2 separate regions of the Homo sapiens genome follow, and region 1 is linked to region 2. The links come from fine-mapping of genetic effects on gene expression. A gene starts in region 2. The other region holds a variant in brackets. All regions are shown on one strand. Distances are from middle to middle.

Evidence for each region. PIP is the estimated chance that this variant, and not a neighbour inherited with it, causes the effect.
Region 1: its variant is the best candidate, but not a certain one, in a credible set for the expression of ANKRD6 in whole blood (INTERVAL, PIP 0.84).

The regions. Positions count from the first base shown.
Region 1 is chr6:89,569,127-89,580,996 of GRCh38, reverse strand. All of the region lies in intron 2 of ANKRD6 (ankyrin repeat domain 6), which reads right to left. Among named protein-coding and RNA genes, the nearest start is that of MDN1-AS1, 63 kb to the left of the region's middle. The variant C/T (reference allele first, on the strand shown) is at 5,990.
Region 2 is chr6:89,428,098-89,439,967 of GRCh38, reverse strand. It overlaps ANKRD6 (ankyrin repeat domain 6), which reads right to left and starts at 6,816. Exons shown (of 16, transcript NM_001242809.2): 1 at 6,593-6,816. It overlaps LOC124901360 (a long non-coding RNA gene), which reads left to right. Exons shown (of 2, transcript XR_007059675.1): 1 at 1-6,551; 2 at 7,381-9,760. RefSeq lists a silencer at 6,545-7,024.

The DNA.
Region 1 (11,870 bases), 140 kb before region 2:
GCCTTCTGTAGTAGAACCATTACCTACTCCAATTAAAATAAGTGTATGGGGTCCTTTGGAAGGAGCATGCTATATACAACACATTCTCCCAAGTGAAAACTTTCACCTGACCAACCACCTTGTAAGTGTCAATTTCCCCCACGTCCTGGGGAGTGACAGCTTAAAGCAAATGACTAGGAACCAGCAGGTCGGCAAACACGAGTTCAGGCCACGCCATTCTGGTAAGTCCTAACATTAAACACAAACCCAGGAAATCAAAAACAAAGCAAATGACCACCACAAAAGATCCTTCGTTTCCACTGCTCCCCTGCCTTAGAACACCAGCATCGCAAATCCCTCGTGGAAGTGAGGTTTTGTCGAAACTGGAAACAGGTTTCAGAGCAGGAAGCCCAGCGAGTGGCAGCAGGAGAGCCTCTCGGTGCAGAGCCTGTTCTCACTGTGTTTCTTGAGGCCATGAATGTATACCACTTACTGACTTCCAGCGTTCTCTTGAAAGTGGCTGCCGGAAAATATTTACCAGCCAGGCATCCTCTTCATTTCTGAAAACATCATCAGGTGCTCATGCTGGGGAAAGTTACTACTTTACTACAATTGAACTCTTTGCATTTCTCTTTTTAAAAGTTTAAAGTTCATATTGGAGTACAGTAGTTACCAGCATGGGGAGACAACATGATGCAAAAGCCCCACGGGAACCACAAGCAACCTACAAAGGACTTATTCAGCCTCTTGAAGCTTCTGTTTCCTCATCTGTAACAATTAAGAGAGTTATCTTTAAAAAAAAAAAAAAAATCAAGTTTCTCGAGGTATAATTTCCATTCAACAAAATCAACTTTTTTAAAGTATTCACTTTCATGTGGTTGGAGAAATGTACACAGCCAACCCCACAAACAAAATATGGAAGATTTTCATCACCCCCACCCAAAATTCCCTCCTGCTCCTTTGCAGTCAATAATTTCCCACCATCTCCAGCCCCTAGCAATCACTGATCTATTTTCTGTCCCTATAATTTTGACTCTTCTAGTAAGTCTGGAAGATACCAGTATGTCCGGAAATCAGGTAGCAGAAGTCCTTCAACTTTGTTCTTCAACGTCACTTTGGCTATTCTAGGTCTTCTGCATTCCATATAAATTTTAGAATCAGCTTCTCAACTTCTACTCCAAAAAGCTGATAGTTTTATTAAATGTTGGACACTGAGACACTTTGTCATCTCATTTAGCCTTTTTTTTTTTTTTTTTTTTTTGAGACAGGGTCTTGCTCTGTGGCCCAGGCTGGAGTGCAGTGGCACTATCTTGGATTACTGCAGCTTCCGCCTCCTGGGTTCAAGCAATTCTCCTGCCTCAGGCTCCCAAGTAGCTGGGATTACAGGCGTGCACCACCACACCCGACTAATTTTTGTATTTTCAGTAGAGATGGAATTTCACTAGTCTTGAACTCCTGGCCTCAAGAGATCCACCAGCCTTGACCTCCCAAAGTGCTGGGATTACAGGCATGAGCCACTGCACCCGGCCTTCATTTAGTCTTGATGGCGATCTCATGAGGCTGAGATTATCCTCACTTTTCAGGTAGGATACTGAATGGCCTTGTGTCTTCCACTCAGGACTCCCTGCCTGATACTTGGACCACAGCTCTTAGCATTGTTGCATTGTCAGAATCCCCTCAGTGCCTACTATATTTGACACTGACTATGTGCTAAGCACTGTTCTAAGTAGTTTGCATATACTGATTCAGGTAGTGCTTAAAGAACCTAATGAGGTAGCTACTATTATTTAATCCTCATTTTAGAGGTGATGATATGATGCACAAAGTTATTTCCTCAAGACCATAGAGCTAGTAAATATCATTGGCATTTGAAACAGAGCACCTGGCTCCTGCATCCACGCTTGTACCTTCTACACTACACCGCCTTCATCAGGAATTTCTGAACTTGCTATAAAACTCTGGAAATGGTGTGCAGGAGGCAAGGACAGGGGAGGAGAAAATTCCCTTTGGGCCACCCTGCAGACAGCTTCTTTCTCTGTCTGCACTGAGGGGTGGCCAGCATAGTGGTGGAAGGGCAAGGACTATGGAGGTGCTGGAAACAAGGGTCAGGAGTGCCTACATGTGGGCCTCAGGGCCACATAAAGCTGGCTCCTTCTCAGGGCTAGCACCTACTACTTCTTTGGTCATGGGCAAGTTACTTTCTGTCTAGCACCTCCCTTTCCTTATTGGTATCTCAGCGATAAGAGCACTAGCTTGGCAGAGCTGTGGTAAGGATTTCAACCAGATAGTATATGGCAAGCACCTGGCCCACTGCTGGTGCAGGCACTCAACACATATTTTTAAACTTGACTTTATCTTTGACAAAGTACAAAATTAATATATGCTTATTTTAATAACTGAAACAATACAATGAAAAAAATCAGGCTGGATGCGGTGGCTCATGCCTGTGATCCCAGCACTTTGGGAGGCCAAGGCGGGCAGATCACTTCAGGCTAGGAGTTTGAAATCAGCCTAGGTAACATGACAAGACCCCATCTCTACTAAAAATACAAAAATTAGCCAGGTGTGGTGGCACGTGTCTGTAGTCCCAGCTACTCAAGAGGCTGAGGCAGGAGAATCGCTTCAACCCGGGAGGTGGAGGTTACAGTGAGCCGAGACTGGGCCACTGCACTACAGCCTAAGCAAAAGAGTGAGACTCTGTTTCCAAAAAAAAAAAAAAAAAAAAAAAAAAGGAGGCGGGAGGGGGAAAAAGCTAATCGTCTTCCTTGCTAGGCAGCCAATGTTAACAGTCTCATGTGTCCCATGTCGTTCTCCTGGCTCACCAAATGAAAGCATACATTTGTGGAGAGAAGTAGACTTGCCTATTTAAACTGAAGTAGATCACACCGTATGGTCTCCATGCTACCTGCCCTGTGGCACCTCCTGAGTTTTCTGCCTGCCCACTCTGCAGAGAACTCTGGGGGGCTCACCCTCTATGAACAAGCTCTTTGAGGCCCTGGGGTTTGTGCTTAATTATCTAAATTCCAATTTCGTTACTCAGGGAGAGTGGTAGGTATCAAATGGAGATGAATTTTATGAATGATACTGAATTTTCTTCTTAACCAAACTTGCATAAAACAACCTTTGTCTACTTCCTTTTGGAGAAGATAAAAACTTCAGTAAAACATTCCAAGGACCAGCATTTTTGTTGTTTTGTTTTTTGAGACAGGATCTCCCTCTGATGCCCAGGCTGGAGTGCAGTGGCACAATCATGGCTCACTGCAGCCTCAACCTCCTGAGCTCAAGCAATCCTCCCACCTCAGCCTCCTATGTAGCTAGGACTATAGGTGTGCATCACCATGCCCAGCTAATTTTTTATTTTCTGTAAAGACAGGGTCTCACTATGTTTCCCAGGCTAACCAGCTTCTTAACAGTTCTAGGAAATGATACTCTGCCTGGGGACTCCTAGAGGCTCTCAACTCTAATGTTATGGCCAATGCTTGGCACTAAGGAGCATGTAGAGGATTTATCCAGATGACAAAACACCTGTTGGTACTGAGGTAACAAAATTAGCTGTATCAGAAGGTATTTGACTAAAGCACAAGGGAACTGGAGAGAATATGTTCATTTATAAAACCAGAGCTTTCTTGCAAAGAAAAAATATATCCCATTTTTTTGTTTTAGTATCAAACATCTCAAGCAGTGCCTGCAGGGGCAACTAGAAAGACACAGAGTTGAGAGAAGTTAGGAGGCATAATGAGCCTCACTTGGTCACTGACAGGAAGCGTCAGTGGAGGGATGTCAAAGACCCAAAAGAAGAAACGATGGCTTTGGGCTTCTGCTTGAGGTGTGCACAAATGGGGCTCCCTCGTACTGATAAAAAGGGACCTTGGGAAGAGGACCAGGCCTCAGGAGGGGCTGCAGCTTCCAGTGTGGGCACTTCGATTTGAACCTGTGGATTCTGCACATAAAGATGCCCAGGAAGGCTGGGCATGGTGGCTCATGACTGTAGTCCCTGTTACCTGGGAGGAGAATCACTTGAGTCCAGAAGTTTAGGACCAGCCTAGGCAATATAGTGAGACTCTTGTCTCAAAAAAAAATAAAAAATAAAAAATGCCCATGAAGGCAGCTGGCCTTGGGGATCAGGAGACAGGGCGAAGCTGGAGATGGAGACATGGTAACCAGCCTTGAGCTGGAAAAGCCAAGTGGGTGTCCAGAGGGAGAGCAGATGAGCGCAGAGGGCCTGAGGAAAGCCAATTTTAGAGGCAGGAAAAGCAAAAGGAGATGGAGAAGGCACCTTGGGGAGGAAAACCAGGAGGCAGAGCTGACAGACCCAACGGGAGCTTCAGGGATAGGAGTGCAGGCAACAGTGTCAAATTCTAGCCTGTCTCACCAAGAATGCAAGCTCCAGCAAGGACCAAGATGTTTTTTCCTGTCTTGTTCACCAGTGCACAGCTGAAGCTCAAAATATATTGTCTAGATGAGGGAAGGAAAAGGTGACTTTGGTGAAAGGAGTAGCAGAAAAGTGAAGGGTCATGAGCCTGAGTTATTGTCTTTAATAATCTGCTCCAGAGATATCTCAGACTTCTCAGCATACCCAGTGCTTTTATCAGATTACCTGTTCCAGCTGAAAATGTGTTTGTCAACATGATGAAGTACAACTGGTCGAAATATGAAAGTTGTGCAAATGGCCAGGTGTGGTGGCTCACGCCTGTAATCCCAGCACTTTGGGAGGCCGAGGAGGGTGGATCATGAGGTCAGGAGATTGAGACCATCCTGGCTAATATGGTGAAACCCCATCTCTACTAAAAATACAAAAATTAGCCAGGCGTGGTGGCAGGCGCCTGTAGTCCCAGCTACTCAGGAGGCTGAGGCAGGAGAATGGAGTGAACCCAGAAGGCAGAGCTTGCAGTGAGCTGAGATCGCACCACTGCACTCCAGCCTGGGTGACAGAGCGAGACTCCGTCTCAAAAAAAAAAAAGAAAGAAAGTTGTGCAAATGGAAAATCATAGTTCTTAGTGAGCCTTTCTCTTAAAACATGAGTTTTAAATTCTTACATGTAGTTCCCACATCAATTTCCAGCTCCCAACCCCACTTGCTCTGAAGACATGTTCTGTGCATGACAACCCCATCCTTACTTAGTGGACAACATACTGGAACCACCCACTAGGAGTTGAAGTAAAATTCCCAGGACAGAAGAGATGCCCTTATCTGTGGCAGAGAAAATGTCCACAGGAGCCAGGACATTCCAGTTCTCATCTGGGCTCTGGCATGCCCTATTTGAACAAGTCACTTTCCTTCTGTGACCTCATTTCCTCTCAAGGGAAACCATATATATCTTACAAGCCTCTGGGGACAAGCAACATATACATGAAAATAATTCGGAAATGTTTTATACAAGTACAATCCCATTATTGGGAAATCGCTTATTTTTTTTTAAGTAAAGTACCTGGGCATATTGAGCTCCCAGTCAATAAAACATTTGCAGATTATATCCACAATGTGTCAGGTGCCAAGGAATATGCTCTAACAAGCAGCAGCCCATAGAAAGTTCACAATCTAAACTTATAAACCACATAGTGGAAACATGATGGTTACCAGTGTTGGGGCTCAAAAAACAACCCAAAAGGAAGGCCTCACAAGCAAAAGTTTTTCTCTGACCTCTTCCTGCCCTCCTATCTCTGGCCCCTCAATTCCTCCCCAGAGGCTAACCATAGAAACTAGAATCCCTCTTCCCCCAAGGCAGGTCATAGAAACCAGAATCTGCTACCCTCAAAGCCAGCCATAAAACTTAAAAATATTACTCTAACCTTCCCCTCCTCCCCTTTCTGCGTAAAAGCAAGCCATAAAGAAATTATCTGACCTAGTTGAATGTAGGTCTTAACACTCCATTCCAGAGAGGGTCCTGCCTCATACCTAGAAGGCAGAAATGCTCAGCTCAGAAAGGCCAAGAAGAATGTAGACAGACAGGCTTTGCTGGGTTTCCCATGCAATCAGCATTAGATCGTGCCCTTTCTGTCCAATCATATTT[C/T]TACATGGCTATCCACACTCTTTTGAACCTAAGCATAAAAATGGACAATTTCCCCTGCATTTTTGGGTCCTCATTCTGAAGGCTCCTGTATGTACATGTTAAATAAATTTTTATGCCTCTTCTACAATTTATCTGCCATTTGTCAGCTGATTTTTCAGTGAGCCTTCAAGGGCCAAGGGGAACTTTCCTCCTTGCCTCCTGTGGGAGCAAGGACTCTCGAACCACATGGCCAGGGTTTGAGTCCCAGTTTTGACACTTTCTAAGGGAAACTTAGGGCAGGTTACCTGATCATTCCTTGCCTCAGTTTCCTCATCTGTAAAATGGGGATAATAGCCATGGTGAGGTTTAAAATACTTAATTGTTGTAGAGCTCTTACAAGAGTACCTAATACCTTGCAATTGCTATCAAAGTGTAAGAAATTCACAGTCAATAACATTATTCCCCTCATTCGGCACAGATGGGATGTGAGTACCTTGCTAGGCACTGGATGAGTTAAAAAATAATCAATATTTTATGTCCACTTAGATTTTATAACTATGGCAACATGTGCTATCACATTTAGTGCTTATGGAAACTCTAAGGTTTGTGAGGAAATAGAGACTCCTGTCATGATTGGCCTAATCCATGGTTCTGAGGCGGGGATGATTTTGTTCCTCAGGGGATGTCTGTCAGTGTCCAGAGACATTTTTGGTTGTCAAAATCCAAGGAAAGGAAGTACTACCAGCACATCTATGGCAAGAAGCCACAGATGCTGCTAAATACCCTACAATGCACAGGAAAGTCCCAATAGCACAGGATGATCTGGCCCAAAATGTCAGTGATGTTGCTAAGGCTGAACAACCCTGGCCTACATTAATAAGCCTTTAATAAGCAGCAGAACAGGTGCCTACACCAAGGTCTTTGGATTCCAAATTCAGTGCCTTTCTCCTCTGTCAAACACAGATAAATGTAAGAGAGACACTATGACCCAGGTCACAGTGATGATGTGGTGGGGAGTTCTGAGCACCCACAGAGCAGTATGAAGGACACAGAATGCATAGAGAACAAGGTTACATCAATTGGGAGGAGAGCAAATTCCATCCAGGGTACCATTCACTGGGTGGACTTCATGTTGGTGGTGGCTCCTGAGCTGAGTCCTGAATGGGCAGGTCCTTCAAGGGGCAGAGTGGATGCAAAAGGCCTTTCAGAAGACAGTTGCAAGGAACACTATAAGCTGACTTTCCCAACAGCAACACTATAAGTTCAAAGATGAGGCACTGCGTTTGAAGTTCTTAGGCAAAATAATTCTCTGCCTAGGTTTCTATACCAAATTGTCCCGTAAGCAAGAGGGTAGAATAAGGAGTTTCAGACATGCAGACTCTCAAAAAATTTATGTACATATTCCCTTTCTTAGGAAGAAATCAAAGAATGTGCAGTATCAAAGTTAGAGTGACATGGGTTCCAGCAAACAGGGATCTAATACAGGGGAGAGGTGAAAGGACTTCTCAAGATGACTGTGCAGAACTAGAGAGCAACCCAGATCAATCAGAAAGAAGGATAAATGACTCCAGAGGGGATATCCCCAGGAAAAGACTCGGGCTGATAAATATGTAATAGGTTTACTCATGGAGAATTGCACTAAGAACGGTTTTACAGAGTTATCAGATAGTAGATGAAACATTTACCAATAAATTTAAATCAAATTAAACAAGTGAAAAAATTAGGGTAACTATCAGCTCCAGGAAAAATAATAAGATATATATTTTTTAAAAAAGTAATCATTCTCAGCTAACCAGTGAGCAGCATTTACATAGTCACAATAATTATAAGTCTGATTTTAAAATTGTGGTATTTGGGAGGCTGAGGCAGTAGGATCGCCCAGGAAGTTGCTCATTATTATCAGCTAGGCATGGTGGCACACATGCCTGTAGTCCCAGCTACTCAGGAGGCTGAGGCAGGAGGATTGCTTGAGCCCAGGAGGTTAAGGCTGCAGTGAGCCGTGTTCACACCACTGCACTCCAGCCTGGGAGACAAAGCAAGACTCTGTGTCAAAACAAACAAACAAACAAACTGTGAAGAGCTCACACTTTCTGACTTCAAAACACATTAAAAGCTACAGTAATCAAAACAGTTGGTATTAGAATAAAAATATATAAAACCTGTGAAATATAATAGAAAGCATAGAAATAAACCTTCATGTATATGGTCAAATGATCTTCAGCAAAGATACCAAGACCGCTCAATGGGAAAAGGATAGTCTCCTCAACAAATGGTCCTGGGAAAGCCAGATACCCACATGCAAAAAAGTAAAGATGGACCCTTACCTTACACTATATAAAAAATTAACTCGAAATGGAATAAAAACCTAAATATAAGATCCAAATCTATAAAGCTTCTACAAGGGGAAAAGCTTCATGACATTGGATCTGGCAATGATTTCTTGGATATGACAATGCTAGCACAGGTAATAAAAGCAAAAATAGACAAATGGGACATCAAGCTTGAAAATGTTTGTGCATCAAAGAACACAATCAGCAGAGTAAAAAGACAAGCTACAAACAACGAGATACCACTGTAAAGCTACTAGAATGGTCAAAATCCGTAAGATTGAAACACCAAATGCTGGTGAGAATGTGGAGCAACAGCAAATCTCATTCATTGCTGATGGGAATCCAGCAGTTTGGCAGTTTCTTACAAAACAAAACATTCTTACCATGTGATCCAGCAACTGCACTCCTTGGTATCTAGTGAAAAAAGCTGAAAGTGTATGTCCACACAAAAAACTGCACATAAATGTTTATAGCAGCTTTACTCATAATTACCAAAATTGGGAAGCAACCAAGATGTCCTTCAGTAGGTGAATGCTTCCAAAACTGTAGTATATCCATACAACGGAAGATTTTTCAGTCCTAAAAGGAAATGAACTATCAAGCCATGAAAAGACATGGAAGAACCTTAAACGCATATAACTAAGTGAAAGAAGCCAATATAAAAAGGCTACATATTGTATGATTCCAACAACATGACATTCTGAAAAAGGTAAAACTATGGAGACAGTAAGAAGATCCAGTGGTTGCCAGGGATTGGGGTGGGAGGAGGGAAGGGGATAAATAGGTGAAGCACAGAGGATCTTTAGAGCAGTAAAAATAATCTATATGATACTATACTGGTGGATGTATGTCATTATACATTTTTCCAAATCCATAGAATGTACAAGAATAAGCCGTAATGTAAACTATGGACTTTGGGTGATAATGATGCGTCAGTATAGGCTCACCAGTTGTAACAAATGTATCACTCTGGTGGCGGATGTTGATAATGGGATAGGTTAAACATGTTTAGGGGCGGGAGCAATACGGGAAATCTCTGGACCTTCCTCTCAATTTTGCTGTGAATCTAAAACGGCTCTAAAAAAGTACTCCTAAAGGCAACCACAGAATGAGAAAAAATGTTGCAAATCAAATATATGATAAAGGATTAATATCTAGAATATATAAAGAACTCTTACAACTCAACACCAAAAAAAATCAAATAACCAGATTAAACAATAGGCAAAGGACTTGAATAGCCATTTCTCCAAAGATGATACACAAATGGCAAACAAGCATATAAAAAGACATTTAATATCACTAATAATCAGAGACATGCAAATCAAAACCACAGCAAGATATCACCTCACACCCATTAGGAAGGTCAGTAAAAATAGTAGCACTTTGGGAGGCCAAGGCCAGCGGATCACGAGGTCAGGAGATCGAGACCACCCCTGGCTAACACGGTGAAACCTTATCTCTACTAAAAATAAAAAAAAAATTAGCCAGGCATCATGGCGGGCACCTGTAGTCCCAGCTACTCAGGAGGCTGAGGCAGGAGAATGGCGTGAACCCGGGAGGTGGAGCTTGCAGTGAGCCAAGATAGCACCACTGCACCCCAGCCTGGGCGACAGAGCGAGACTCCGACTCAAAAAAACAAACAAACAAAAACAGAAGGCAAGTATTGTCAAGGATGTGGAAAAGTGGGAACCCTTGTGCACTGTTGGTAGCACTGTAAAATGGTGCAACAGCCATGGAAAACAGTATGGAAGTTACCCAAAACTTTAAAAATAGAACTACCATATTTCACTTCTGAGTATATAACCAAAAGATATGAAAGCAAGGGCTCAAACACCCATGTATACCCATGTTCATACAGCAATATTCACAACAGGCAAAAGGCGGTAGCAACCCAAGTGTCCATCAGTGGATGAAGGGATAAACCAGATGTGGCATATACATAAAATGGATTATTATTCAACCTTAACAAAGAATGAAATTCTGGTACATGCTACATGAGTGAATCTTGAAAACACGCTAAGTGCAATAAGCTAGTCACAAAAGGACAATATGGTATGATTCCACTTATTTGAGGTGCGGCTAACAGTCAAATTCAGAGACAGGAAGTAGAATGGTGGGTGCCAGGGTCTGGGAGGAGGAAATGAGAAATTAGTGTTTAATGGGTATAGAGCTTCAGCTGGGGAAGACGAAAAATTTCTGAAGATGGATGGTGGTGATGGTTGCACAATAATGTGAATGTATTTAATGCCACTAAACTATACATTTAAAAATGGTTGAAGTAGTACATTTACTATGTATATTTTACCACAATAAATAAATTTTAAAAATATAAAAGAAAGGCCAGGCATGGTGGCTCATGCCTGTAATTCCAATACTTTGGGAGGCTGAGGAGGGAAGATCACTTGAGACCAGGAGTTCGAGACCAGCCTGGGCAACGTAGGGAGACCCTGTCTTAACAATTAACAGTGTGCATGCCTGTAGTCCCAGCTACACAGGGAGCTGAGGTGGGAGGATTGCTTGAACCTAGGAGGTGGAGGCTACAGTGAGCTATGTTCATGCCACTGCATTCCAGCCTGGGTGACAGAGGGGAGCATATCTTAAATAAATTATACACACACACACACACACACACACATATACACACATACACACACACGAGTATAACATAAATAAAATATTAAACTTGACTTCACTAAAAAAACTAAACTGTTGAATCAGGTGGTAGAACATACATATTCATTGGAAATATGGAGACAAATACCAGAAAAGAAACATCTAGAAGGCTGAAAGTTGTTTCTTTGGAGTGTAAATGGGACTGGGCTAAGGGATCACTGTTTTTATTAAAAACCTTTAGCAGTATTTGAACTAATAGTTTTAAAATTCCAATGGGAATCTTTGCTAAAGATAACTATGAAAAAGCAAATGATGTATAAAAAAAGACAGGCAAGCACTGGTGAGATTGTAGAGAAGCTGAAACCTTCATACATTGCTGGTAGAATGTAAAATGGTACAGGTATTCTGGAAAATAGCTTGGCAGTTTCTTAACGTGTTAAACAGATTTGCCATACGACCCAGCAATTCCACTCCTAGGAATATACTCTAGAGAACTGAAAACATATTTCCAACACAAAAACTTGTATATAAATTTTCACAAAAGCATTATTCATAATAGCCCCAAACTGGAATCAACCACAAATGTCCATCAACTGATAAAGAAATAAACAGAATATATGTATACAATGGATTATTACTCAGTCATGAAAAGGAATGAAGTACTGATACATGCTACAACAGAGATGAACCTTGAAAACTTTATGCTAAGTGAGAGAAGTCAGACACAAAAGACCACATACCATATGATTCTATTTACATAAAATGCCTAGAAAAGGTAAGTTTATAGAGACAAAAAGTAGATTCATGGTTGCCAGGAGCTGGGGGTGGGAATGGGAAGTGACAGCTACTGGGTACGAAGATTTTTACTAGGAGCCAGGCGCGGTGGCTCATGCCTGTAATCCCAGCACTTTGGGAGGCCAAGGTGGGTGGGTCACCTGAGGTCAGGAGTTTGAGACCAG
Region 2 (11,870 bases):
CCCAGCACTTTGGGAGGCCAAGGTGGGCAGATCACTTGAGGTCAGGAGTTCAAGAGCAGCCTGGCTAACATGGTAAAACCCCGTCTCTACTAAAAATACAAAAATTAACCGAGTATGGTGGTGCACCTGTAATCCCAGCTACTCGGGAGGCTGAGGCACAAGAATTGCTTGAACCCAGGAGGCGGGGTTTGCAGTAAGCCAAGATGGCACTACTGCACTCCAGCCTGGGTGACAGAATGAGACCCTGTCTCGGAAAAAGAAAAAAAAGAAAATTAGGATTTAAAAGATGGTAAATTTTAATTATTTGGGCCTTTTCCTTAGGTAGAACAGCCCAATGTCAACTAGTAACAGATAAATGACGCTGAAGCATTACTAGAATTAGTGCACATTACTGAAGTTTCTCCATGACTCTAACTGGGTCTTGGGATCTTTCACATGATCTTGTAATCCTTTAATGTCTACCATTTGATGCTGTGCACCCTCTTGGGCACAAATTTACTTCAAACAAATAAGAAAAACAGATACAAATTTTACAATTTTACTTTCCCTTAAGAGCAAATAAGTAAAATTGACACATATACTTTGTGATTATGTAACACATTCCATGGCAAAAACTTTTTTTTTTGAAGGGGGAATAAGTTTCATACCTAGCCTATTGCCAGCAGCCTAAAGTAGTTTTAAACTCTTATGATAACATTAACGAAGCCATTAAGACATGCATATTCTTGTTCTTTGCTAATCTTTCTCTGCTCCGTCTTTCTCAAATGTACAATTCTCTACATGGTTGGATGATTCTGAGTAAATTAAATATGCTTCATTCCCTAATAAATGTCTGAGCCTAGATGGCTTAATAGCATTTTTATCTGCTCACATGGCAATTATGATACATTTGTTTCCTGTATAGAAGTCTTCTCCACACCCTCCACTATGAAGACATAACATTTTATTTATACAGTGTATATACATATATACAAACACATACATATATATACATATACACATATATGTTTAGAAAGTAAGAAATAGGCCAGGTGCAGTGGCTCACACCTGTAATCCCAGCACTTTAGGAGGCCGAGGCCGGCGGATCACCTGAGGTCAGGAGTTCGAAATCAGACTGGCCAATGTGGCAAAACACTGACTCTACTAAAAATACAAAAATTAGCCAGGCACAGTGGTGGCTGCCTGTAATCCTAGCTACTCAGGAGGCTGAGGCAGGAGAATCACTTGAACCTGGGTGGTGGAGGTTGTGGTGAGCCAAGATCGCACCATTGCACTCCAGCCTAGGCAACAGAGCGAGATTTTGTCTAAAAAAAAAAGTTAGAAATAAATTACATAAAGGCAGTTACACTTAATTGACCAGTTAAAACACTAGCACCTTATTGTACAAAAAATGGCTACTCATCCACCAAAGAGTTCTATTCCTTTCCCAAAGTAAATTATTTTTACTAAGAAACAGTTGCCCAGCCAGGGACTGTATTTCCTAGCTTCCTTGAATCTAGTTGAGGCCATGTGACTGGTTCTGCCAATAGAATGTAAGCAGAAGTGATGTGTTTCCCTTGCTGGTGAAGGCAGTCAACACGGTTTCCTTTTGCCATACTCTTTCCCCCTTGCAGTGACTCTGGAGACCACATGAAGATGGTGGCATCACAAGAAGGAATGAACCTTGATCCCTGAGTCACCTGAAGGACAGCTACCCAGGAGAGCTGCCCAACAGGAATAACTGATTAGGACTTGTGTGAGCTAGATTAAACCACTGAGGTTTGGAAATGTTTGTTACAGCAGTTAGCCTACCTTACAGCATACAGAATATACCTGTATCGGTGAAAGACTCAAATCATGATTTATTGAAGTATTTCTAAGATAAATGCAACTATTGAGGAATCATATGTATAAGAAGAGCTTGCAGGTTACCATTTTTGCCACTTACCTACCCCATTCATCTGAGTTTAAAACCAGTGTGAGCCTGGGCAACAAGGTGAAACCCTGTCTCTACCAAAAATACAAAAATAGTAGGGCGTGGTGTTATGTGCCTGTAGTCCCAGCTACTTAGGAGGCTGAGGTGAGAGGATGGCTTTGAGCCCAGGAGGCAGAGGTTGCAGTGAGTTGAAATTGCACCACTGCACTCTAGCCTGGGTGACAGCGAGACCTTGCCTCAAAAATAAAATAAAATAAAATGAAACCAGTCTGAATGAGTAGAGACCTACTTATTAAGTAAATTCTGATATTTAACATCTTTTCTAACACTGTGTAAATTCTATAGCTCATCTGTATCACTGGATATGAAACAAGGTAGGACGTATTGTATGCTATATTTAGAATACATTTGGAACATAAAGTGTAAACCAGAAGACACTCTTAAAATTAAATTTGCCTCCCCCAAAGCAGAATGTACTGGACTTCAGTCATTCAGTACCATCTTCATGAGTTTTTCCATAGCTGTGTACCTAATATATTATTATTTACTTCATATTTTTCTAGACCTAAGGAGGGCACAGAGAGATGTGGCAGTTGTGAGACTTCAGTTCCACATCTGCCCTATTCAGAAGTCCAAGATGTTCATTCTGGGACTTCCTTTGGCTCTTGAGGAATTGGTCCTGGAGTTTTCAGGATCCAGATGAATAGCTGGGGGCTCTGAGGAAAAAGAACTGGTCGGGCTTATCTGGGGTCTGAGCAGAAAGAAAGCCTCTTGTAACTGGTGGGGGAAAGATATGTCAGAGAACTGAAATGGGATAAGACATCCAAATAAAGGGGCCTTTTATGGGGTGGGGGTAGGTAGGAATCTGTAAATATTTCCTTATAGCGCTTACTAACCTTTTTTGACTTAGGAAACCATTTGAGAATCTGATGAAAGCTATGGAACTTCTTCCCCCTCAAACATACATAAGAGCATTCACTTAAATACTTATACATAATTTTGGGAGATCTTAGAGTATTTGTAGCCCACCACTGAACCCCAGGTTAAAAATTCTTATTTTAGTGACAAATTTAATAGCTGATCCTCAGGTTTATAAAGGAACCCACCAGTAAATAATGCAGACACTTCCCTATAAAAGAGAGAGAACATAGCTATTTCTTCCATCTCTTCCCCCTTGACGGGATGAGGAAGAGCTGGGAAATAGAGATAATGTCACCCCTAAGCTTTTCTCTGCTGCTGTCCCTAACCTCAGTGCCTTGGTACAGTCCAGCAGTGGGGCACCATCAACAGAATTTGTTTTTAAAAAACGTTTAAAAACTTTATTTTGAAATAATATTAGTCTTACATAGAAGTTGCAAAAATAGTACATGAATTCCCTATTCTGTCCTCCCCCTACCCCTGGTAACTACCATTCTACTTTCTGTCTCCATGTGTATGACTACTCTAGGTACCTAATATAAACAGAATCATACAATATTGTCCCTTCTGTGACTAACTTATTTCACCTAGCATAATGTTTTCAAAGTTTACTATTTTGGACCCCCTGACTGGGTGTTTTGCAACTATAGCAAATTAAAATGGGCAATGTAGAAAATCTGAAAATTTCAATGGAAACTAGTATACCAAACATGTCTGGACACTGCTGAACCTATTAACTGGAGGTAGTTTGCAGTTTCAACAGTAGATCATGTTACATTCCTATCCAAGACAATACATCTTTGCAAAGCTGGGTTTTCTGTGGCTGCTGTGATAAAAGCCAAATGCTGCGGAAATATTAATGTGAAACAGGAAATGAGAGTGGCAGTGTCCAACACGATCCCAAGGTTTGAAAAGTAGTATAGGCACACACATACGGTTAGTAATTATGACTTTAAAGGATGTAAAATATTTTTTCTCTCAGTTTATGTATATTATTTTTTCAAACAACTTCTAAGTAAATACTCAGTTGTTTGAACCTAACTACTAACTACTGAAACCTAAGGGAATTGTGAAAAAATTACTAACTACTGAAGCCTAAGGGAATTGTGAAAAAATTAACTCAGACACTAAGGGCTCCATGAAACCAAGTTTCAGAATCTTTGCCTTAACCAAGAAGTAACAAAACAGTGTAAGATTCACCAAGGAAAGCCATGTGACCTTGAAGAAATAAAACAAAGACAATAACACAAACATATCAACCAGGAAGAGGAATTTGGGTTGTTAAAACCATTTTTAAAGGTCACTCTTAGCTTAATCCTTCAAATCCCACACAATGCCTTCTGGATAATTTGCATTTTTAAAAAAACTTCTAAAACGCACGCACCCAAATTACTGTTTTCCCACTTCTTAGGGACTCAAGCAAAGCTTTTAAAATCACAGCCATCAATCTATGTTGGAAGAGACTGGGTCTCCCCTACACAGACAGAACACACCTTCGGGATCCGTGCCAGGGAGACAGGAGAAACTTGGAAGAAGACAGAGACTAAAAGATCCCCCGACTTTGAGACTTTCGGCTTTTTTGTGGTTTGTATCTTACCCTCAATAGCCTGCTTTTAAGTTCAATAACAATGCTCCTTGAGAAAAAAAGAAAAATAAAGAATGCTCCAGGTTATTGTGGAAATGCTTGTTGGGAAACTTCCTTTCCTCAGGGTTTTTCATATAAGCAAGGGAAAAAGTTAACACAACATCCAGAATAGTGGTTCCTTGGGTGGGAGGCGAGAAGTGAGTGGAAGGCAATGGAGAGGGGTACTCAGGGGCTCCAGGGGCCTGGCGATGTTCTAGTTCTTCAGCCGGGTGACTCGTACTTGGGTGTGATCTATTGTTATTCTTTACATTGCACTCTAAGGTTTATACTGTCTGAGTGTATGATGTATTTCACAGTGGCAGCACCAGCATCTCTATACAAGAAGGAGGCCTTGGGAGTTGGAAGTGTGCCTTGTCTCTAAGCTGAGTTGGATCGCAGGCAGTCTGCTTTTACATGGAGCATATGCTTATCTGGAAAGGCTTTGGGGAGGCTGATGAGTTTAAGTGGGAGACTAAGATTAATTTTTGGTGCCACCATGAAAAAACAAGGAGTTAATAAATTCACATTTTTAAAAATTACCATTGGTTTATACCTCCCAACACTGCGACTAGTTGTTTTCTGGTCTCTTTAATTCCTCTTCATCCCTCTTCTACCCTTCCCCCATGTCCAGTATGACCTAGAGGGCAGAAAATACTCCCCAATTTTAATTTGTATCCCTAATTTTTAAAAAATTTTTTGTTACCATATGCTAAACAAATACTAAAGATGACAAAGTGTAACATGTATCGGTATAGACACACCTACTACACTCAAGAACAAGGCTGCAGACCAGTACAGTGGCTCACACCTGTAATCCCAACACTTTGGGAGGCTGAGACAGGAGGAGTTCGAGACCAGCTTAGGCAACACAGTGAGACTCTGTCTCTAGTAAAATAAAAAAATTCAAAATTAGCCAGGTGTGGTGGTCCCAGGCTGAGGTGGGAAGATCGGTTGAGCTAAGGAGGTCAAAGCTTACAGCCTGGGCAACAGAGCGAAACTCTGTCTCAAAACAACAACAACAAAAACCCCGCCAAGGCTGCTATTGGTGTTTTGGGGATGAGAAACCCCCAATCAGTATACCATGGATGGGACCACCTTGGACCCAGGTGTGTTTGTCTTCATTGCCCAAGTTCTTTCCACTTACACTGGCCTAACAGAACCTAAGCATGAATGAATTCAACATCCAACAGGTTCGCAAAAGGTGTCTAACACACAAGAGTACAATGCCAAGCATTTCATTCCCATCACTTCACTGCATGAACACAATACTACGAGGTTATGTACAATACCTGCAGTTTAGAGTTCTAAAAACTAAGGTTTAAAGAAGTGGGTTTTCCAAAGTCACACACCTAACAAGTGGTGGAGTCAGAACTCCATCTCACGGGCCCGAAGTGGCTCTTTACTACCACGTGACCCATCTCATGCTACCTCGCGGGGGAAACATTCTTGACCAGCTTTGAGACATTCAAGTCCCTCTTGGGTCACAAATAATGCTGCACTTCCCCTCCAGTCCCCGAGATCTACCGGAAGCAACACACTTAAAAGCCCAAGATAAGCTTGGGTGAGCTGATGTCTGGACCCAAACCAGACAGCACGCCGACTCTCTGGACCCCGGGAGATGCCACTTGCTGAGGCTTCGCCGATGGGGCTCCTGAGGGGTATCGGCCCCTCTCCTGCGACTGCACCCTAGTGCTGTCGTCCAGGGCGGGGAGGGACGGGGTCATTCGGAGGCGGCCGCAGGCCAGGGACCTACCCTCCTACGCGCCGCAGACCGCGGGGTACTCGGACCCCCGCCCCCACCGCCCTTCCTTCAAACTGCAAGCGAGCAGGAGAACGAGGGACGAGCCCCAGAAGAAAGTTCTCCACCTCCCTCGCCCGAAGTTCCATATTCCAGGGAGGCAACTGATGCCAGGCGAAGAGGGAGGCGCCCCGGGGGGACCCCCTCGCGCCGGGCGTTTTCGGAGGCCGCAGGCCAGGGGGCGAGGCGCGGTGTCCGGGTCTCCTCCGCGGGCAGTCGGCGATCCTGGGGTGCCGAGGGAGCAGCGCCCCCTTCCCCCGACAGCGTCCTCCCCGACCTGAGGCGCCCACCCCGGTGTAAGCGGGGGTCCCAGGGAGCCGGCGAGGTCGCCTGGTACCTTTCTCTCCCGCGCCGGACGTCCGCGCCGCAGGGACCAAGGCCGGCGACACGGTGGGGGGCGAGGGGCGAAGACGGGGACTGGCTCCCGCTGGCTCCGGCGGCCCCAGGGCCTCGGCGCCGCCCAGCGCCGTGCCTCCAGCCGCCCGCGCGCCAGGCAGCGCTCTCGGCTCCTGCGGGTTACCTGTGGCCGAGCCCGCCGCGTCCGCCGCCGCAGGGCCCTCTGCCCCGTCCCGCCGGCCCCGCCCCACCCCTGCCGGCGGCTCCTACGCCGGTGCCGCAGCGCCTCCCAGCGGCGAGCCGGGGCACGGCAGGGACCCTCGCGAGAGAGAGGTGGCACCGCGGAGGCCCTGGGGCTGGCCCCGATCTGCAGCCCTCTCCTGGGTGGGGCCACCGCCTTCTGAAGAGTGGGAGGAAGGGGGCCTATAGTAGGGTGAGGTTTTCCGCGTGGGGGTTGCCAGGAAGTGTATTGGGAGGGGAGGAGAATTAGCAGGAGGAACCTCCCACCTTCACTCAATTCGTGGCCAAGTGGATATTTCAATATAACCATAGCTCACTTAACTGGGGCTGCTCAGTACAAACTGAACAACAATGATGAATGACCCAGATTTATTGGGGTAGCTGGAGAGGGGAAAGGAAGCCTTTATTTCTAACAGCTTGACTATAAGTATCTTGTTGGAATCATCCCATATGGAAATGGCAAAAGCATTGAGCGAGCCTGACCCCCATATTCATATCACACTTTACATACCATTATCTCAGTCTGGTTTTGTCTATTTTCATTCACAGCCACTTCTTCAATACCTAGAAGAGCTCCCTGAACACAGGAAGCATTCAATAAGCTACTGTTGAATACATGTAAGATGGATGGGATCTCATTCCACCCTTTGAAGAAGCATGGACAGGTATCTGCTCTCCAAAGGCGGAGAGATGGAAGAGGAGGCAAGCAGCACCCTAAAATGGACTATCAATCTTACCTGAGGTTTTGGGACAAGCTTATCACGAATCTGATTTTTTTTTCTTTCTTGCTTAAAATTTTTTTTTGAGACGAAGTCTCACTCTGTCACCCAGGCTGGAGTGCAATGGCACCATCTAGGCTCACTGCAACCTCCGCCTCCCAGGTTCAAGTGATTCTCCTGCCTCAGCCTCCTGAGTAGCTGGGATTACAGGTGCCCGCCACCATCCCTGGCTAATTTTTGTATTTTTAGTAGAGATGGGGTTTCACCATATTGGTCAGGCTGGTCTCGAACTCCTGACCTCGTGATCCTCCAGCCTCGGCCTCCCAAAGTGCTGGGATTACAGGCATGAGCCACTGCACCCAGCCGACTTTTCTTATTCCCTCTGAAACAGGCCTGGTTTCCAGGAGAAAAGAAACATGATGATTTCTTCCTTTTCCTTAAGATGTTTGTTTCCCTCTCTCCTTCAGGGATCATTAGGCAGGAGAGATCCCAAGAGCCTGTTTCCACACTAGGAAGGGGAAGTTCTTGATTTTCTCCTACTGCTTCTGAAATTTTCCCAACCCCATAGTCACAGCTGCAGTTTTACCTAACAGGATGTGAAATCTCTCTTCTGAGTATCCTTTGGCCTTTTCCAGACTTTTTTTTCCCCCTTAAGATGGGGCCTTGCTGTGTCACCCAGGCTGAAGTGCAGTAGCCCACTGCAGTCTTGAACTCCTGGGCTCAAGCAATCCTCCTGCCTCTGCCTCCTGAATAGTTGGGATTACAAGTGTGCACCACCATGCCCAGCTAATTTTTTTATGTTTAACACAGAGGAGGTCAAGGCTGGTCTTGAACTCCTGGGCTCAAGTAATCCTCCGGCCTCAGCCTCCCAAAGTGTTGGGATTACAGGTGTGAGCCACCGCGCCCAGCCCTTCTTCAGATTTGTGCCCCATTCCTGTTGCTCTACACCTGGAGCTGATAGAAGAACACATTTCCTTTCTCTGCTGGCTTGTAGCTCCAGGTTTCTCTCCAGGCAGGTTACTAATGAGTTCCTAGATAACCCTCAAAGTCAAAGTTTGTACACATGACCTTTCTTTTTATTTTTTGAGATGGAGTTTTGCTTTTATTGCCCAGGCTAGAGTGCAGTGGTGCAATCTCGGCTCACTGCAACCTCCACCTTCCGGTTTCAAGCAATTCTCCTGCCTCAGCCTCCCAAGTAGCTGGGATTACAGGCGCCTGCCACCACGCCCAGCTAATTTTTTTGTATTTTTAGTAGAGACGGAGTTTCACCATGTTGGTCAGGCTGATCTCGAACTGCTGACCTTGTGATCCACCTGCCTCAGCCTCCCAAAGTGCTGGGATTACAGGTGTGAGCCACCGCGCCCAGCCACATGACCTTTCAATGTGATCATTTCTCTCTTGTACTTTTCCACATTGAGTTTTCCTAGCTAGTCCCTCGAATAAACTTCCAAAGATGCAAATGCTCAGTTTCCCTGATAGGCTTTTAAAACATCACCAGAAAGTCACATTGAGATGAGATTTTAAGTTATATTTGTGGGTAGTCAGAGCAATGACCCCGAAAGAAACAGAAAGCCCAAGCCAGCCTGCAAGACATGTGAGCGCTCCTGGGAACTGACTGGTCTGCTTTTGTTCCCAGACTTTGATTAATGGGGATTCCTGGCAGGAGGTCTCATGAGAGCCAAAGCAGGCAGTGGCTGAGCTGCTTGGAGATCTTGCTTGCTTATCTCCAAGTGGGCAGACAGTCTTTGGGCGACCAACGAAGAAGACTCCTAAATCTCCCTCTTTATGAGAAGGGCTCCCAGGCTGCAGCTCTGTTCTTGCCCCTACGTTCAGCTCAATCACAGCCAGCCTCTTATATTCACCCTAGCTCACCCTCCTTCTGCCTTGTGAGAAAGAAGTTTGCTCTGCAAATGATCATTTTCACTGCTTTGTGATAATATAATCTGCTCCTATTTTCAACAACATGTCTTTAATGAGCTGACTGCATTAGCTGTCTTTCATGTTGTTAGCTTCAACGCAGCCTTCAACACACCATTCTGGCTTCCATCCCTGCCACTCCACTGAAACTGCCTTTGCTAAAGCTTCCACTCAAGGAAGAACCCTTCCATCTGCCGCTCTATAATCATATCCTTCTCTTTCAGAGGAAACCACCATCCTAAGTTTTGTGTTAATAATTATGTTATCACAAATATATGTGTCCCTAAACACTACATGGTTTGTTTTTGCGTGTTTTTGAGCTTTTTTAAAATAGAATCATTCTGCATTATTCCCATGCAACTTGCAGCTTTTGCCCAGCATTATGTTTCTGAGATTCACCTATCTGATTTCTCTGTTATATAGGTATTTTGTTGTAAAAACATAACACAATTTAATTACCCATTCTACTTTTGGATGTTGGATTGGCTCCAGTTTTTGCTATTGCAAACAGTGTTGCTGTGAATATTCTTAAATATTTCTCCGATACATGTGTGTAAGAATGTTTTTTAGGATATATACCTAGAAGTGGAATCATCAGGTCTTAAGGTAAGTGCACGTTCAAATTTACTAGGTAATGTCAAACTGTCTAAACTGGTTGTTTTCTAAAATTGTTTTCTAAAGTGGTCATACCAATTTTCATTTCTAACACCTGTATATGAAAGTCATCTGGCCGGGCATGGTGGCTCACGCCTGTAAATCCCAGCACTTTGGGAGGTCGAGGCGGGTGGATCACGAAGTCAGGAGATCGAGACCATCCTGGCTAACACGGTGAAACCCCATCTCTACTAAAAATACAAAAAATTAGCCTGGCATGGTGGCGGACGCCTGTAGTCCCAGCTACTCGGGAGGCTGAGGCAGGAGAATGGCGTGAACCCAGGAGGTGGAGCTTGCAGTGAGATCGTGCCACTGCACTCCAGCCTGGGTGACAGAGCGGGACTCCGTCTCAGAAAAAAAAAAAAGAAAGTCATCCATGTCCCACAATCTTTGCCAGCACTTGTTTTCATCTAAATGATCTCTCATAATAGTTGTAGTTTGTATTTCCCCAATTACCAGTATGGCTGAGCATCTTTAATGTTTAATAGCTAGTCCTGTTTCCTCTTTTGTTAATTGATGGTGTCTTTTGCCTTGTTTCATGTGTTTTGAGAAGTCCTTTCTGACCCCAAGGATATAAAAATATTCTCCCATATTTTATTTCAAGTGTTACAATTTTGTCTTTCATGTGTAAGTCCACATTCTATCTGAAATTCATTTCTCCTTTCATTTGCAATGCCAGAACTCTCTTACAATGGATTTTTATACACATATAGGTTTGTTTTCGGTCCTCTATTTTGTTCCATTTGTCTATCCCTCTGCTAGCATCATACTGCCTGAAATCTTTGGTTTTCTTTTTTTTTTCTTTCTCTTTCTCTCTTTCTTTTCTCTTTTTTTTTCTTTTTGAAAGAGCCTCGCTCTGTTGCCCAGGCCAGAGCATAGTAACATGATCTTGGCTCACTGCAACCTCCTTCTCCTGGGTTCAAGTGATTCTCCTGCCTCAGCCTCCTGAGTAGCTGGGATTACAGTTGCATGCCACCACGCCCAGCTAATTTTTTTAAAATTATTTTTTAGTAGAGACAGGGTTTCACCGTGTTGGCCAGGCTGGTCTTGAACTCCTGACCTCAAGTGATCCACCCGCCTTGGCCTCCCAAAGTGCTGGGATTACAGGTGTGAGCCACTGTGCCTAGCCTGTGGTTTTATTTCAAGTGTTGATTTCCAAATATACAAGTCCTACCCTGACTTATTTCTCTTTTTTATTTATACAGATCTCAAGTATTCTTAGCTCTTTTCTCCTTCATAGACATTTTCTAATTCATTTGTTATGATAAACTTGAGATTTTAATTTGAAATCTCAAATCTCAGTAAATATATGTGGTGGATTGCATTGTTCATTCACAATTATTCGTACCCTTTCCATCTTTGCCATGCTTTTCTATAGGTCGGGTAAACCAGTCTGCTCCATTGGTTTTGGGCTTGTGTTGACTTGCCTTGGCAAACACCACATTGGAACAGAAGCTTAAAATATGTTGTATGCTTTAGTGCTTCCCCTACCTCCCTTGAGCTTCTGCCATTTGCCATGAGAATATCATGCCCCAAAGAGTGGCTGCACCTTCCGTGGGGATCCAGAATGAAAAGACAAATGGAATCATGCAGAGTCCAATATGGCCACAAAAAGTCTGCAGCCTTCATGTAATAGAAGCAAGAATGTTTCCTACTACTGCTATTTGGAAAAAATTGGCATCTTTATGATATTAAGTCATTGGTACAATGTGTGTGTGTGTGTGTGTGTGTGTGTGTGTGTAGCTCTGT